Linked DNA regions of Homo sapiens: regions 1 and 3 are each linked to region 2. The links come from fine-mapping of genetic effects on gene expression. A gene starts in region 2. Each other region holds a variant in brackets. All regions are shown on one strand. Distances are between the middles of the regions.

Region 1 (6,083 bases), 55 kb before region 2:
CATCATGGTGTATTTTGACCTTTTGTTGACAGGACACAGATGAGCCATTGGGTGAGCAAGTTTGGGGGTGAGATTTTGGTCCAGCAAGACATTAGAGCTGTGGAAATGAAAGGAGAGGGAACCTTCTCATTTTGAGCTGGATAACAACAAGTTGCCATGGAGACCCTTTGGGGAGACAATATAGCAACCTCACCTCCTGCAAGTTGAGGTCTCTAAAGACCCTCAGCATGGAGCTTCTGAGCCAGCCCTGACTGGGGAAGAGAGGGCATCAGGAGCACACTCCCTCCAGCAAATGGAGATGGAGTTCAGACTTAGTCTTGCTGCCCCAGGAATGTGGCCAAAGTGCAGCCTCCCTGATCCCCACAGATGCCAACCCTGATCAGCCTCAGCTTGCCACGCCTACAGGCTGTGCAGACTCAGTCTCTTCCACAACTGTTCCAACCCCCAGCTCTGGCCTGGCTGACTCAGGTCTAAGTGGCCAGCATCCTTTGTGACTAAACCTGCCCAGATCATGTAAAAAAAGAAAGAAAAAAAAATTCCCTCTTGGCCGGGCACAGTGGCTCACGCCTGTAATCCCAGCACTTTGGGAGGCCGAGATGGGCAGATCACCTGAGGTCAGGAGTTCAAGACCAGCCTGGCCAGCATGCCGAAACTCCATCTCTACTAAAAATACAAAAATTAACCAGCCGTGGTGGTGTGCGCCTGTAGTCCCAGCTACTCAGGAGGCTGAGGCAGGAGAATTGCTTGAACCCGGAAGCAGAGGTGCACTCCAGCCTGGGCAACAGAGTGGTACACTGTCTCAAAAAAAATCATTTGATCTAGTCATCTAACCCCCAGGAGCAAACACTGAGAACATACTCCAAAATGGGAAAAAGCTAAGCCACATGTGTACAGATATATAGTGCAGGCCAGGTGCAGTGACTCATGCCTGTAATCCCAACACTTTGTGAGGCCGAGACAGGAGGATCACCTGAGCCCAGGAGTTTGAGACCAGCATGGGCAGCATGGCAAGACCTCATCTCTACTAAAACAAACAAATTCAGCACGGCATGGTGGTGCGTGCCTGTGGTCCCAGCTACTTGGGAGGCTAAGGTGGGAAGCTGCGGTGAGCTGAGATTGCGCCACTGTACTCCAGCCTGGGCAAAAGAGCAAGGCCCTGTCTCAAAAAAAAATTTTTTTTGGCCAGGCGCGGTGGCTCACACCTGTAATCCCAGCACTTTGGGAGGCCAAGGTGGGTGGATCACGAGGTCAGGAGATCGAGACCATCATGGCTAACACAGTGAAACCCTATCTCTACTAAAAATACAAAAAGTTAGCCGGGCATGGTGGCAGGCGCCTGTAGTCCCAGCTACTCTGGAGGCTGAGGCAGGAGAATGGCGTGAACCTGGGAGGCGGAGCTTGCAGTGAACAGAGATTGTGCCACTGCACTCCAGCCTGGGCCACAGAGCGCGACTCCATCTCAAAAAAAAAAAAAAAAAAAAAAATTTTTTTTTTTGGTATTTTTAGTAGAGACGAGGTTTCACCGTGTTAGCCAGGATGGTCTCGATCTCTTGACCTCGTGATCTGCCCGCCTTGGCCACCCAAAGTGCTGGGATTACAGGCGTGAGCCACCGCGCCCGGCCAAAAAAAAAACTTTTTTAGCGTGTGTGTGTGTGCACGCCCGCAAATGCACGGGTGTGTGTGCCAGGAGTGGTTAAGTAAATTATGGGCAAATTCCTTCACGGGAAGACTAAGACACTAAAAAACATGACGGTATACAATGTAGCGAAATGTTTACTATGTTTAAATGAAGGGGTAAAAAACAGGATGTGAATTGGTACCCAGGTGCTACCTCAGGACTAAGGATTTGTATAGGCAGGAAGTGAAAAAAGAAACAAAACCTAGAGGCCAGCTGATGAGTCATGGGGTAGGTTAGTGGTGACCTCTCTCACCCTTTCATTTCCTTGCCTGCTATTAGAATTATTGATGCAATCAAATAAAAATTAGGGGAGAGAGCCGGGGTGGTGGCTCTCACCTGTAATCCCAGCACTATAGGAGACCAAGGCGGGTGGATCACCTGAGGTCAGGAGTTCGACACTAGCCTGGCCAACATGGTGAAAGCCTATCTACTAAAAATACAAAAATTAGCTGGGTGTGGTGGCGAGCACCTGTAATCCCAGCTACTCAGGAGGCTAAGGCAGGAGAATCGCTTGAACCAGGGAGGTGGAGGTTGCAGTGAGCTGAGATCGCACCACTGCATTTCAGCCTGGGTGACAAGCGTGAAACTCCGTCTCAAAAAACAAAAAAAAAATTGGGGGAGAGAAAAGAGGAAAGGACTTCCACAAGTCAAATGGAAAGAGAACTTTGGGGAAATACGAGTTCTGTGTCTCTGGAGCCAGTTCTGCCAGATATTCTGGTATCTTCGGAATCCCTCCCTATCCTAACCGTCTCCAGATGGGGACCTCTCCCTCTCATGTGCATGGCACTGACATGCAGGGGTGCAGGCCTAACCTGCAGGAGCCTTCCAGACAAGATGCTAACACCAACAGCTACACAAGAAGGGGACAGGTCTCAGAAAAGACACTGAACGAGGAGCTCAAAATCCCAGGGGGTTGGCAGACATGGCCCAAAGTTCGAGGATGAGGTCCAGGCCAGCTGCTGAGTGGACAGTGCGACGCAGCAAGGTGTGGAGGGCTTGTTGGGAAAACAGCAGCTCAGAAAGACAAATGTGACAGGTAGGCAATTCATCCTGAGAGCAATTGGACTTGGAGCACAGCCCGGAAACACTCATTTTTGAGGGCATAACAGAGAAAAAGACATCCAGGGGAGGGCAGAGGAGAGGAGGTAGGAAGAGAAAAACAAAGAGGACAGGGGTGAGTGGCGGAGCGGGAGGTGAGCCAGGAATAGGCACCAGTTCCACCCTTGCAGCCCAGGCCCCAGCAGGGTCCAGCCCACCTCTCTCACCTCTTGACGTTGCTGTGGATGATCTCCAGACCATGCAGGTACTCGACGGCACAGAGCAGCCCTGAGCAGATGCTGACACGCTGGGGCCAGGGGAGGGGGTCCGAGCCACCCTAAGAGAAAGAAAAGCAGGAGGACAAATAGTCACAATGTACCTTTTTAAAGTCCTGATGGCAGCCAGG[T/C]GCGGTGGCTCACACCTGTAATCCCAGCACACTGGGAGGCCCAGGCAGGCAGATCACTAGTTCAGGAGATCGAGACCATCCTGGCTAACACGGTGAAACCCCATCTCTACTAAAAATACAAAAAATTAGCCGGTCCTGGTGGCGGCTGCCTGTAGTCCCAGCTATTTGGGAGGCTGAGGCAGGAGAATGGCGTGAACCCAGGAGGCAGAGCTTGCAGTAAGCCGAGATTGCACCACTGCACTGCAGCCTGGGTGACAGAGCGAGACTCCATCTCAAAAAAAAACAAAAACAAAAACAAAAAAACGAAGTCCTGATGGCAGGGTCCCAGGCTCCTGATCCTCCTCCCACCCTTCATGTCCTCTGTCACAGGGCTCAGCATGATACTGTGAGTTTTTTCATTGTTTTGTGTTTGCTGGTTTTGAGACAGGTCTTGCTCTGTCACCCAGACTGGAGTGCAGCATCATAGCTCACTGTAGCCTTAAAATCCCAGGCTGAAGTGACTCTCCCGCCTCAGACTCCCGAATAGCTGGGATCACAGGCACGTGCCACCACTCTCAACTAATTTTTGTATTTTTCGTGGAGACAGGGTTTTGCCATGTTGGCCAGGCTGGTCTCGAACTCCTGGGCTCAAGCGATCCGTCCACCTCGCTCTCCCAAAGTGCTGGAATTACAGGCATGAGCCATGTGCCTGACCCTGTACTATGGGTTTTGACATCAGACAGATCTAGGTGTAACTCCCAGTTCAGACATGCATTAGCTGTATAATTTTGGAAAAAGACACTTAACATCTCTGAGCCTCAGTTTCCTTGGGTATAAAATGGAAATGTTAATCCCTATATTTTAGGGTTGCTGTAAGGATTCAAGGGAGTATATGGTATACCCCTAGCATAGCACCTGCCACACAGTAGGTGCTCAATCAGCAGTTATTTTTATCATGTCCATTACAGAGGCTGCTCTGGAATTTCTCTCTAAAAGAAGCTGGATGGGAGAGGAGCTAGGGAGCTTGTGTTTGCAAGCCAAGCACCTGGGCCTTACGCTGATTTTATCTGTATTAGGGGAAACTTCACCAGGGCTGATGGGGATTGTGGGATGGGCTAAAGCCTCTCATTTGCTCCCACTGTTGTTCTAAGACTGACTCTCCCAGGCTAAATCATCACCGTTTTGGTTTTTTTTTTTTTTTTTTTTTTGAGACGGAGTCTCACTTTGTCGCCCAGGCTGGAGTGCAGTGGTGCAATCTCGGCTCACCGCAACCTCTGCCTCCCGGGTTCAAGTGATTCTCCTGTCTCAGCCTCCTCAGTAGCTGGTACTACAGGCACACGCCACCACGCCTGGCTAATTCTTATATTTTTAGTAGAGACAGGGTTTCACCATATTGGTCAGGCTGGTGTCAAACTCCTGACCTCAAGTGATCCACCCACCTCGGCTTCCCAATGTACTGGGATTACAGGCGTGAGCCACTGTGCCCAGCCTCATCACCTATTTTTGAAGCCCTGGTGTAGGTCCCACATCCTCTAAGAACTGGCCTGGACAGCCCCTGCTAATTTCTTCTCAAAAACTCTGAAACCTAGAGCCAGACGAACCCAATGTAAGCTCTGGCCTGACATTTGTCCTCTATGTTCCTTTGGGCAAGTCACTTTGTCTCTATGTGTCAGAGATTCCTCTTTTGAAAAATGAGGGAAGAAATTGCTTTGGTTGTGGCACGGCCTGGAGGTGATGACCTACGTAAAACCCTTATCACAGCAACCTGCATACAGTGAGTGCCCAGAAAAGCTAAAGATCATTAGTATGCCGTGAGTAACTGCTTTGTCTTGTCCCTGCCATGGGAAGCAATAATTCTGTTATGGAATAACTCTTTCCCCTCTATTTGAGGATAAGATAAGCAGAAGACCTGTTTTAAAACACTGTAATTTTTATTAAGGATTACCTTCACATGATATAATACTCTAATAGTAAGTTTGCTTCTTATCCTAGGCCCCAATCACCTAGTTCTGCTCCCTAGCAGCAGCCAGTAAACCAGTTTCTTGTGTATCTTTCCAGAGACATTCCATAAACACACAAGCAAATAGGTATATATTAGAAGAACATTTTATAATAAAAATTCACCTCCACTTTTCCATACTCTTTACCTCTTAATTCTTTTTCTTGTCCTACTGCATTGGCTAACACCTCCAGAACCATGACGAACGAAGTTAGTTCTATGAGATACCTTTGTCCTGCTCTTGATTTGAATGAAATGCTTCTCGTCAAATAATTTTTTATAGATTTTTCCTGAAGATGTTTAATCAGATCTTTTTGAGCTTTTCTTTTTCTTTTTCATATTTTGTCATCCTCATTCAGAGGCCATGCTGATCTTCTCTGTATCGTTCCAATTTTGGTATATGTGCTGCCAAAGTGAGCACTTAACCAGATCTTATGTATCCTGGCCCCACTTCTCTCCTTGAAGTCTCCCTGGTCTCACCTAGATGGCCCCTCTCCCCTCTGAACTTCTGTAAGTCCTTAACCCTTGACCCCATGGCTGGGTGCAGCCTGGTCCCATTCTCTGACCATGACCCAGTCCCTTACCTGACCCTGCAGTCTGTCCTGTAGGGAACCATTTGCCATGTAGGGGTAGATGAAGCTGTGAAACTGTCTTGCAGCACAGAAGCCCAGCACAGGTAAGACATTGGGGTGGCAGCATCTGGAATCGGGCGTCAGTGCAGGTGTGAGGAGTCAGACGGAAAGAATGATCTACTTCCTCATGTCCCACCCCTCTTCTGCCCTCTCCTCCTCCAACGCCACCAATAACCTCCCAGGTACCACATACTCTGACCCCTAAGGGCCTGGCCCCAGGGTGGAAAGATGAAAACTGTCTGCCTTCAACGAGTATGGTGGTCCTCATCCTGCTTTACTGCTCTGCAACACATGACATCTCAACTGCCCCATCTCCAGAAACGGAGACTGAGAGGTTAAGGGACTTGCCCA
Region 2 (6,234 bases):
CTTTAGAAAACATCTGGTAGCTCCTCAAATAGTTAAACATAAAGCCAGATGCAGTGGCTCACACCTGTAATCCCAGCAATTTGGGAAGGTGAGATGGGCAGATCGCTTGAGCTCCAGAGTTCAAGATCAGCCTGAGTAACATGGTGAAACCTGTCTCTACAAAAAATACAAAAGTTAGCTGGGTGCAGCAGTGCACACCTGTAGTCCAGCTACTCAGGAGACAGGAAGATCGCTTGAGCCCAGGAAGTTGGGGCTGCGGTGAGCTACATTTGCACCACTGCACAAAATCTTGTATGTGAGTGTTCACAGCAGCACTATTCACAATGGCCCAAAAGTGAAAAGAACCCAATGCCCAACAACTGATAAATGAATGAAATGTAGTATATCCATACCATGGAACATTATCCTACAATAAAAAGAAACTGGCTGGGCGCGGTGGCTCACGCCTGTAATCCCAGCACTTTGGGAAGCCGAGGTAGGTGGATTACACGGTCAGGAGATCAAGACCATCCTGGCTAACACAGTGAAACCCCATCTCTACTAAAAATACAAAAAAATTAGCCGGGCATGGTGGCAGGCACCTGTAGTCCAAGCTGCTAGGGAGGCTGAAGCAGGAGAATGGCATGAACCCAGGAGGTGGAGCTTGCAGTGAGCCGAGATTGCGCCACTGCACTCCAGCCTGGGTGACAAAGCGAGACTCCGTCTCAAAAAAAAAAAAAAGAAACTAAGTATTGACGCATGCTACAACATGGATGAACCTCATGTTAGTTGAAACAAGTCAGTCACAGAGCACTATATATTATATGATTCCATTTATATGAAATGTCCAAAATAGGCAATGTCTAAAACTCAGGAAAATGGAAGGAGGGGATTGGAAGTTAACGGGTACAGAGTTTCTTCTTCGGGTGATTAAAATGTTCTAAGATTGATTGTGAAGATGGATACACAGCCCTGTGAATATACTAAATACCACTAAATTGTACTCCTGAAACAGGTGGATTGTATGGTATGTGAATATCTCAGTAAAGCTTTATTTTTTTTTTAAGTCATAGGTATGCCTTCTAATTGAATTTCCTAGAAACAGAAGTTGTTCTGGCATTTGTAACTGAGGGCTGGGCCAATGTGGAAAAAATGAGAGGGAGTCTCACACAAAGTTTGTTCACTGCCCAGGAAACATTCAAAGTAGTGAAGCCAGGTCCAGGAGCAGTGGCTCACGCCTGTAATCCCAGCACTTTGGGAGGCCAAAGCGGCCAAATCACATGAGGTCAGGAGTTCGAGACCAGCCTGGCCAACATGGCGAAACCCCATCTCTACTAAAAACATAAAAATTAGTGGGCGTGGTGGCACATGCCTGTAATCCCAGCTACTCGGGAGGCTGAGGCAAGAGAATCACTTGAATCCAAGAGGCGGAAGCTGCAGTGAGCCGAGATCTCGCCACTGCATTCCAGCCTGGGCCACAGAATGAGACTGTCTCAAAAAAATAAAAATGAAAAGAGAATATTACAACTTATGACTTATAAGAATATTTAACACTTAGGTGTCAGTGCTTTTATACAGTATTTTCATTCCTCACAACTTTATGAAGAAGCTATAATTATCATCTCCAGTTTACATACAGATTCAGAAGCTGAGGCTCAGAGAGGTTAACAAACTGGCCCAAAGTCATACAGCAAGAGCCTGGAATGCAGATCTCCACCTGGAAAGCAGAGACAACAGGCAAGCGGCCTCCCCGCAGAGTCCATGGCCCTCTCCGCCAGTCATCCGTCAGGCACCAACAAACAAAACATATGGAGGCTGTCTGAGTGCCTTCCCACGGAATTATCTAGAACTGTGCACCTTGCAATAGAGTGAAAGTAAGTGCTTGTGCTTAGGCCCCATTATACACACTGAATCTATTAGGACACATCTGATCTCAAAACAGGTTGATAGTCATAAATACTGTGATCAAAACAATGTACACTAAAAGTAAATATCTGATTTTAAAACTATAATGGTAAAGTACATTTAATCACAAATATGATAAATAGGCTGGGCACAGTGGCTCACGCCTGTAATCCCAGCACTTTGGGAGGCCGAAGCAGGTGGATCGCCTGAGATCAAGAGTTCCGGAGGCCGGGCGCGGTGGCTCATGCCTGTAATCCCAGCACTTTGGGAGGCCCAGGGTGGGCGGATCACAAGGTCAGGAGATCCAGACCATCCTGGCTAACACGGTGAAACCCCGTCTCTACTAAGAATACAAAGTTAGCCGGGCGTGGTGGCGGGCGCCTGTAGTCCCAGCTACTCAGAAGGCTGAGGCAGGAGAATGGCGTGAACCCGGGAGGCGGAGCTTGCAACGAGCCTAGATCGCGCCACTGCACTCCAGCCTGGGCGACAGAGTGAGACTCCGTCTTAAAAAAAAAAAAAAAAAAAAAAAAAAATAGTTCAAGACCAGTCTGGCCAACATGGTGAAACCCGGTCTCTACTGAAAATACAAAAAATTAGCCAGGGTGGTAGCGGGCGCCTGTAATCCCAGCTACTCGGGAGGCCGAGGCAGGAAAATCGCTTGAATCCCAGAGGTGGAGGTTGCAGTGAGCCGAGACCGTGCCATTGCACTCCAGCCTGGGCAACAACAGCGAAACTCCGTTTCAATATATATATATATGTTAAATCATAGATCCTTCTAATATACACTAAAACTAAACACACCACACACACACACACACACACCCCCCCAAGAAGTGACAGCACCGTGGGTCCCTACAGGGTCGAGGCTCGCACTTTGCAGGCTGTTGTGGGCTGGATGAGAGGCCACCTGGGGACGTCACCGAGCCAGCAGCGCTGACAGGAGGGCCCCCGTACCCACCGTTCTCTGGACTCAGAGCGCAGTGGCGGCGGCCCCTGCTCGTCGACAGACGTCCTCAGAGACCACGCGGCACCTTCAGGTGACAGGCCGAGGTCCGCGGCGGACCCGGTCCAGGAGGCTCAGCTCGCACGCCCTCGGATCGGGACCCGCTGAACCCGGGTGCCCGAGGGAGCTTGGCGGCCGCTCCAGGCGGGATCGCTGGGGGCTCCGGTCGCCCTGGTCCCCTCCCCTCCCCGGGCCGCACTCACCGAACTCCATCCAGTCCCACTCGCTGAGCGCGTCCATGTTGCGGCACAGGTCGTCCAGCACCCAGGAGGGCAGCTGGTAGATGTAGCAGGCCATGGCACGCTACGGGGCCGGCTCCGGCGCGGGACGACTGGGTCGGACACTGCGGGCTGCGGCTTCTCTAGCCAGGGGCGGACCGGCGGGGAAGTGGGCGGGGCGGGAGGGCACCAGCGTCCCCAGCGGCCACGGGCGGCACGACGGCCCCGCCGGCTCCACCCCAGCGCCGGCCAGAGAATCGGAACTGCGAGGGGAAACTGAGGCCCTGGTGGGAGAAGGCCACACGGGAATTCTGCCGCAGCGGCAGGAGGCCTTCTGACCCCACTTCCATCGGCACTACACCATGCATCATGCGCTCATCAAATACTCCATTAATTACCTACTGTATGCCAGGCAACTCCCTAGGTGTTGGTAATACCTGAATAAGAAACCCTACAGCCGGGCGCGGTGGATCACTCCTGTAATCCCAGTACTTTGGGAGGCCGAGGCGGACGGATCACGAGGTCAGGAGTTCGAGACTAGCCTGGCCAATATGGTGAAACCCCGTCACTACTAAAAATACAAAAATTAGCCGGGCACGGTGGCGCACGCCTGTAGTCCCAGCTACCTGGGAGGCTGAGGCAGAAGAATCGCTTGAACCCTGGAGGCGGAGGTTGCAGTAAGCCCAGATTGTGCCCTTGTACTCCAGCCTGGGTGAAGAGTGAGGCTCTGTCTCAAAAAAAAAAAAAAAAAAAAAAAAAAGCCTACAAAAGCCCTTGCTTTCATAAGACTTACAATCTAGGTGTGGAGAGAAAGACTAACAATAAATAATAAATATAGTATGTTACAGAGTGTCTTAAAGGTAATAAGCACTATTGCAAAAAAAAAAAAAAAGGAAAAAAAGTTGGTTAAAGGGAATCAGGAATTCAGATTGAGCATGGGGAATATTCTATTAAATAGGGTAGTCAGGTAGACTTTACTATAGTAGCTAATATGTATCGTGCAGCTACTATGTGCCAGGCACTGTTGTAGGTGCTGGGAATACCTCTGAAGAGAAGGACAAAATCCTTGTCCTGGAGGGAGACAGACAACAAGCAATAAAAATAGGCAGATAAGCTATGTTGGAGAATGAAAGTAGAAGCCTGGGCAACATAGGAAGATCTTATCTCTACAAAAAACTTTTTTTTTTTGAGACGGAGTCTTGCTCTGTAGCCCAGGCTGGAGTGCAGTGGCGCAATCTTGGCTCACTGCAGCCTCTGCCTCCCAGGTCCCGGTTCAAGCAATTCTCCTGCCTCAGTCTCCCGAGTAGCTGGGATTACAGGCACGCGCCACCACGCCCAGCTAATTTTTGTATTTTTAGTAGAGACAGGGTTTCACTGTGTTGGCCAGGATGGTCTTGAACTCCTGACCTCGTGATCCGCCTGCCTCGGCCTCCCAAAGTGCTAGGATTACAGGCATGAGCCACCACGCCTGGCCTCTACAAAAAATTTTAAAATGAGCCAAGCATGGTAGTGTACACCTATAGTCCCAGCTACTCAGGAGGCTAAGGTGGTAGGATCTCTTGAACCCAGGAGTTTGAGGCTGCAGTGAGCTATGACTGCACTGCAGCCTGAGTGACAGAATGAGACCCTGTCTCTGAAAAAAAAAAAAAAAAAAAGAAAGAAAAGAAAGAATAAAAGTAGAGGGTGGTAAAAGGGAGTGCAAGTGGCCAATTGCATTATCTTAGATGATACTATTACTGGGAAAAAAGCAGAGTATGGTGCAGGGGACTGCAGGACAAACTGGATTATTAAATAGGGTATAAGGGGCTGGGTGCGGCGGCTCCCACCTATAACCCCAGCACTTTGGGAGGCAGAGGCAGGCAGATCGCTTGAGCCCAGGAATTCGAGACCAGCCTGGGAAACAGAGCAAGACCCTGTCTCTACAAAAATTAGCCAGGCATGGTGGCATGTGCCTGTAGTCCCAGGTACTTGGGAGGCTAAGGTAGGGGGATCACTTGAGCCCAGGAGGTGGAGATTGCAGTGAGCCAAGATTGCACCACTGCACTCCAGCCTGGGTGAGAGTGAGACCCTGTCTCTAAATAAACAAAGAGGGTACAAGGAACAGAATTTATAGTGTGTGTATACATATATATATATATATATATATATATATATATATATAAAATACACACACACATATATAAAATAGCTAGTATTTATTGAGCACTTACTATGTGTAGCCTTCACCTGGGTTACTTTACTTACTCCTTACAATGACCCTCTGAGGTAGGTATGGTTATAGCCCCATTCTACAAATAAGGAAACTAAGGCACAGAGAGGTTAAATAATATGGCTAAAATCATTTGAACCTAAGTATTCTGACCCCAGGCTCTCCATCACCACTGGCTAAAGTATATTGTAGATACAGATACATTTATCTGTATCTACAATGTACTTTGCAAAAATGATCTTATGTCATTCTTACAAGCCTATACTATAGATATTATTATCCCCATTTTACACAGAAGTAAATAGATTCCAAGAGGTTAGGCGAGGTCACGAAGGGCAGATAAGTAACTAGAGTAGGTACCACTGTATAGCTGTGGCCGTCAGCTATGGAGTAGCGCTGCAAAAGGAGGAAGCTGAAATCAAAGTGAGAAGTCCTAGGGCCAAGTTGCAGTTCTGCCACCAACAGGCTTTGTGACTCTGGACAACTCATTTCATTCGTCAAGCCTTGTTTCCAGCATCTGTAAAGTGGGCCTGCTCCTTCCTACTGCTTAGAGTTGTGAGGGGAGTGGAATAAATCAAATTATGTAGCCTATATAGAACACCTACTACAGGGCTTTCCTCGCACAGAGAATGTGCCCAAAAAATGGTAGCTGTCATTAGTGGTCTTGAAAAGGCACCCACTGGCCTTGGAGTCCTATCAAGTTTGGAGACCTGGTTCAGCCACTCTCCGGCTCTTAGTCCTTTGAGCCAGTTCTGTTTTCCCTTTTGGAAACTGGATCTCCTGCTGCAGCCACTTGGAAGGATTGTTATGAAGCCTAAATGGACTCCAAAACGCTCAAGATCAACTGTGAAGTGCTGAGCCCAGTAAAGGATTACTATTATGTCCTCCTTGATGTTGAAAGTGGGACATATTTCAGTGTT
Region 3 (6,234 bases), 110 kb before region 2:
TGCTAAGCTGTTCATCTGCCCTCCCCGACCCCTACACACAGGCAGCAGAGGTTTCAAGAGATTCCAATTCCAACATTTCATTCCTGCCTCTAAAAAATTATCCCTCAGAGTAGTGAAATAAACTATTAGAGCTTTAGGATAGAATATTACACAGCTGTTAAACATTTTTCAAAGTATAGCTGATGAATGGGAAAATTTCACGAGTAGAAAAGACACTTAAAACTATTTAATTTCCTAATTTCTTTCTTTAACACAAGCACACACATCCAACCTACGACAGGTGCATGGAAGACAAGCCACTGTGCAACTGTTCCTTGCAATTGTATTGTACCTTGCAATTTTCCAAGGAACAATAACATTACATTTATAATGTTTCATGAAACACATCCAGATTTCAAAAATGTTAAGAAGGAAGAAGAACTCATTAGAATGCAGGAACTTGTGGTTGGACAGGAGCTATTTGCAGCATTTGTCCTCACCAGGAACCCAGCTGAAAAACAACAGGAGTGAAGGAAGTACAGATGAGTTATTACCCAGTATAATTACTCACTTCTACCTGCATAAGGTTGGCTTCCTAACTGATCCATTATTTCCAGGGATTCCAGAGTTAGTCTCTCCTGGGAGTTGCCCCAGGCATCTCTTGCATATTTATTACTTTAATAATTAATTAATTCCTCTTTAACACAAGTAAAGAGATACAGCCTGGGTAGGGAAGGACAGTCTACTCTCCCTGGCATCCCTCCCAGATGCTGACATGTGCAACTTACACACAAACTATTCAGGATCTAACTCTTATGAGTTACATAGTTAATCTGTAAACACCACAGATCAACAAAGAAAACGTTAACAGTAATTTGCTCTAACCAGCAGAATAACTATAACTACCCATTCTTTCCCCAATTGTTTTGCTTTTCTCTATTTTCCAATCCTTCCAGAAAATTTTAGGTACATCAACCAAACTCTCCTATAATGAGCAGGGTCTGTCACCCTATCATCTTGCCCAGATACAGACCTTCCACAGGCTCTTTTTTTTTTTTAATGTAATAAAGATGGGGTCTCACTATGTTGCCTTGGCTCATCTTGAACTCCTAGGCTCAAGCAATCTCCTGCCTCAGACTCCCAAAGTGTTGGGATTACAGGCGTGAGCCACCTCGCCCAGCCCTCTATAGGTTCTTCTTCTTCCCTTCACAAGATAAAACATTCAGCAGGACACATCCAGAACTTGCTAACTGCTCTTTTAGGTAAATGCAACTCAGCACTGACATCCAACTAGGTGCAGTTGCCAGTCACCACCATTCACCTCATTTGGGTGCCAAATTTTTTATTTACATCAAAACAGTGTCCATATCCCCCACCCAGCCTAGGAGTCTCTGGTGTTGACAAATATTTTCTAGTCTTCCTCCCCTTTACAGGCAGCTTAGCCCTCTCCCAGCCAGCAACTCCTCAGACTCATTATCTTCCAGTCTTGAGTCAAATCTCACCAAGCCAAATGACATCTTCAAGACTGTGTTTATCCCCCTATGCCTATCGCTTCTAGTTCAGTTTGTTGTGCAGGTCGCCCCATGGACCTTTAAGTGCAGACCTGAGACCCTGATAATTTTGTCTTGAGACAGGGTCTCACTCTGTCACCCAGGCTGGAGCATAATCATGGGTCACTGCAGCTCAACCTCCCAGGCTCAAGCAATCCTCCTGCCTCAGCCTCCTGAGTAGCTGGGACCCCAGGCATGTACCATCACACCCAGCTAATTTTTTTTTTTTTTTTTGGTAGAGATAGGGTTTCACCATGTTGGCCAGGCTGGTCTCCAACTCCTGGCCTCAGGTGATCCGCTCGCCTTGGCCTCCCAAAGTGCTGGGATTACAGGCATGAGTCACCACACCCAGCTATACCCAGCTAATTTTTGTATTTTTAATAGAGACGGGGTTTCGCCACGTTGGCCAGGCTGGTCTCCAACTCCTGGCCTCAGGTGATCCGCCTGCCTCGGCCTCCCAAAATACTGGGATTACAGGTGTGATCCTGTAAATACAAAAAATTAGCTGGGCGTGGTGGCGGGAGTCTATAATCCCAGCTACTCAGGAGGCTGAGGCAAGAGAATCGCTTGAACCTGGGAACTGGAGGCTGCAGTGAGCCAATATCATGCGATTGCACTCCAGCCTGGCCAACAAGAGTGAAACTCTGCCTTAAAAAAAAAAAAAAATTAGCCGGGTGTGGTGGCAGGCACCTGTAATCCCAGCTACTCAGGAGGCTGAGCCAGGAGAATCACTTGAACTGGGGAGGTGGAGGTAGCAGTGAGCTGAGATCGTACCGCTGCCCTCCAGCCTGGGTGACACAGCAAGACTCCATCTCAAAAAAATTTTTATTTTTAATTAGCCAGGCGTGGTGGTGTGCACCTGCAGTCCCAGCTACTTGGGAGGCTGAGGTGGGAGGATCACTTGAGCCCAGGAGGTCAAGGCTGCAGTGAGCTGTGGCTGCACCACTGAACTCCAGTGTGGGCGACAAAGACCTTATCTCTGAAAAAAAAAGAAAAGAAATTCTAAAATACTACAACTCTTACCCTGCCAAAGCACTATGCTCAAAAAATATTGGGAGGAAAAAAAATATTAACAGGGGGCGGGCGCAGTGGCTCAGGTCTGTAATCCCAGCACTTTTCGGACGCCGAGGCAGGTGGATTACTTGAGGTCAGGAGCTCGAGACTAGTCTAACAAACATGGTGAAACCCCACCTCTACTAAAAATACAAAAATTAGCCACGCAAGGTGGCACACACCTGCAGTCTCAGCTACTCGGGAGGCTGAGGCAGGAGAATCGCTTGAACCCAGGAGGCGGAGGCGGAGGCGGAGGTGGAGGCCGCAGTGAGCCGAGAT[CG/G]TGCCACTGCCCTCCAGCCTGGGTGACAGAGTGAGATTCTGTCTCCAAAAAGAAAAAGAAAAAAATATTAACAGAGTATTAGCCATGATCTCTGGTTGAATGGGAAATTATGCATTTTTTCATATTTTTTCAAATATTCTGCAATGGGTATATTTAAAAAAAACAATGCAGGCCAGGCGCAGTGGCTCATGCCTGTAATCACAGCACTTTCGGAGGCCAAGGCGGGTGGATCACCTGAGGTCAGGAGTTCAATACCAACCTGGCCAACATGGTCTCTATTAAAAATACAAAAATTAGCCGGGTGTAGTGATGCACGCCTGTAATCCCAGCTACTTGGGAGGCTGAGGCAGGAAAACAGTTTGAACCCAGGAGGCGGAGGTTGCAGCGAGCTGAGATCGCACCACTGCACTCCAAAGCCTGGGCAAAAGAGCAAGACTCCCTCTCAAAAAATCAATTAAGAAAACCTAAAGTTTATTGCTTCCCAAGAAAGAAAGAAAACAAATGTTTTGACATTGATATCATCCATAAGAAGTCACAAAGTACTTCTCCCTCATCTTCCATAATAAAGCTGAACAGTAAGAAATAGCTTGTAAAGCATTTGACAAATGGCATCTAGATGGTCTGGATGAGAGCAAGCACACTGCGTTTTCAGGGATTCTCAATTATTTACTTCTAAAATTAGATAAACCCTTATTGTCAGGCTTCAACAACTAAAAGAAAAATTAAAACTATAAGCAGACTAAAGAGAGCCTTGTTACCTTGTGCTGTTCTGGGACAGGCGTGGTGCACTTGTAAGAGTAATCCAAGCCCATTTCTCCAAATGCCACAGCCTTAGGGTGCCTTAAGGCTTGCAAAAGATTTCTTTCTTGACTCTCACTGTAGTAACGTGCAAAATGAGGGTGACAGCCAAAGGCCCCCCAGACCAGATCCTCTTTCAACAGCTCCTCCCATAGGCAATCTGTCAGGGTGCGGGGATCACAGAAGTCAGAGATGCAGCCCTGAAATTCCTTAGGGAAGGAGCTGCTGTAAATTTTTCTGAACTTTGTAAAGGTCCCTTGGAAAGATAGCTTGGAATAGAGCATGTCCAGGTGACAATGAGTGTCAATGAAGCCCTCCTCTAGGCTTGGCTCCAGGTGGCTCTTTGGCAGGGAGCTGGATGCGTGTCCTCCACAAGGACGCGGAGGCATCTCCTCTTGGAATGTTCTTTTCTCCTTCACCTCTCTTTCTTCTGAGCTTCTGGAGAAGCGAAATGAACGAGAATTCTGGGACCAGCCTTCCTCTGAGGCCTCCATGTCTCTGGAGGTGTTTTGGACACTCCCTGTAGAGTTGGGGGAATAATCACTCATGCGGCTCCGGCTGCTCTTCCCAACCTGGGCTGCATCGTTGCTGCTGCTGCCTGTGGAGGGGTAGCTAGAAGGCTTGGGGCTGCTGGTCCAATAGCTGGCGTAGTCACACCAAGGACTACTGTACAAATGAGGAGGGTACATGACATAGTCGGTGGTGAAGGAAGAAGGCTCCGGAACGGCTGAAGGTTTCAGGGAGACAGGTTCCTCCTGAGAGAATCTGACTGTGGAGATCTCCTCAACATCAGACCAGTCACTTCCAGAAGAGGGGTGCTCCATCACCACCTCCCTATCTTTATGCTGCAGAAAAGAAGGCATACAACAGTGGGTTAGCCTTCCGATGTGAAGATGGCCTCCCAGGCTGTCATCAGCTGAACATAAACCCTGGCTTGTTCTTCTGGCCATGGTGATGGCTTTGCATTGGCTCATTAGCTCACCCTGTCACCTGGTTTCCTTACAATTTCCAGAAATGTCCAGAACTGAGCCAAGTTACTGCTGTGAACAGCTGTATTGGGTTCAGGGAATAGGCCTGTGACCATGGCCTCATCATGCTACTCCTAAAGGTGGTGCTCTACCTGCATCCCTTTCTCTTGAGAAAAACTGCTCTCTAGAACACACTCCGGATTGGAGATTTTAGAGAAAAGCAGTGCCCAGCTTTTCCTCTCTGACACTGTCGTCAATATATTCAAAATGTAAAATTACAACAGCTGTGGCAGTTGTATTTTTTTTTCAGACAGGGTCTTGCTCTGTTGCCCAGGCTGGAATGCGGTGGTGAGATCTCGACTCACTGAAACCTTGAACTACTGGGCTCAAGTAATCCTCTTGCCTCAGCCATCCAAGTAGCTGGGACTACAGGCACGCACCACCACATCTGGCTAATTTCTTGTAGGTAGGGGGTCTCCCTATATTGCCCAGGCTGGTCTCAAACTCCTGGACTCAAGCAATCCTCCTGCCTTGGCCTCCCAAAATGCTGAAATTACAGGCATAAGCCACCACACCTGGCCATTGTGACAGTTTTTAAACGTGTCCCCGAATTATTTAACCCTTCTCCCCATTGAGAGTGGGGTCTATGACCCCTCCCCTTAATCTGGACCTACCTAGAGACTTACTTATAGCCAAAAGAATGCAACAGAAGCGAAGCTGTGTAACTTCCAAGGCCAGGTCAGAAGGGCCTTGTAGCTTCCATCTGGTTCACTCCACTTGCTCACTCTGGAGCAAGCCAAGCACCATGTAAGAAGTCCGGCAACCCAAATGACATCCTGCTAGAGAGGCCACATGTAGGTGTGCCAGTTTACAGCCTGGCTGACTTACTGGCTGACAGCCAACATCTGTCCACCATGTAAGTGAACATCTCGGATGTCCAGCCCAGTCACACTCTCAGATGACGACAGCCCTCGCCAAAATCTGAAAGGAACTACATGGGGCTCCCCAAGAAACACCTGCCCCAGTCTAGGCCTTTCCAAATTCCTGACCCACAGTACTGAGAGCAAAAGAAAAGTTATTTTAAGCTACTAACTAGTAATAGTGACTGAAACAACCATCCCTTGCATTAAATCGGCTTAGTCCTACTAGAGAAGGTAAGCGCCACGAGATCAGGAATTTTTATTTTTTTTCCACTGATGTCTCCCCAACACCTAGAACAGTGCCTGGCAGATACTGAGTGCTCATGAATATCTGCTGAATTAATTTTTAGAATAAATGGTGCCTCAACTTAGCATCACATCTCCATCAACTGGGTAGCATTTTAAAAACAGATTTTTAAGGCCCATTCCACCCTGAGATATTGTGATTCAATAGGTCCAAGGTGGGGCCAAGGAATCTGCATTTAACTCTCCCCGGAATTGTGATGCAGACCAGGTTTGAGAAATACAGTAAGCACATCAATATCAATTCATGCTGGAAACAAAATTTAAGTGCCATCATTTCTTCTTAAAGCAGCCATCTATACCTGCCAATGACAGAAGGCTTGATGAGCAAGAGGCCTTACAAAGTTCTCTTAATACTTTTATGAGTATATGTAATTCACATA

What was found. PIP is the estimated chance that this variant, and not a neighbour inherited with it, causes the effect. A credible set is the group of variants that fine-mapping cannot tell apart.
Region 1: its variant is the best candidate, but not a certain one, in a credible set for the expression of IRAK2 in whole blood (TOPMed, PIP 0.87).
Region 3: its variant is the best candidate, but not a certain one, in a credible set for the expression of IRAK2 in whole blood (TOPMed, PIP 0.89).

The regions. Positions count from the first base shown.
Region 1 is chr3:10,216,650-10,222,732 of GRCh38, reverse strand. It overlaps IRAK2 (interleukin 1 receptor associated kinase 2), which reads right to left. Exons shown (of 13, transcript NM_001570.4): 7 at 5,685-5,799; 8 at 2,944-3,053; 9 at 1-97. LOC124906338 (U6 spliceosomal RNA) reads right to left here and starts at 5,521; the gene lies at 5,414-5,521. The variant T/C (reference allele first, on the strand shown) is at 3,123.
Region 2 is chr3:10,161,905-10,168,138 of GRCh38, reverse strand. IRAK2 (interleukin 1 receptor associated kinase 2) reads right to left here and starts at 3,220. Exons shown (of 13, transcript NM_001570.4): 1 at 3,091-3,220. The coding sequence starts at 3,184. RefSeq lists silencers at 2,906-3,055, 3,256-3,385.
Region 3 is chr3:10,268,402-10,274,635 of GRCh38, reverse strand. TATDN2 (TatD DNase domain containing 2) reads right to left here. Exons shown (of 8, transcript NM_014760.4): 4 at 3,621-4,505. Among named protein-coding and RNA genes, the nearest start is that of MIR12127, 8.8 kb to the left of the region's middle. The variant CG/G (reference allele first, on the strand shown) is at 2,862.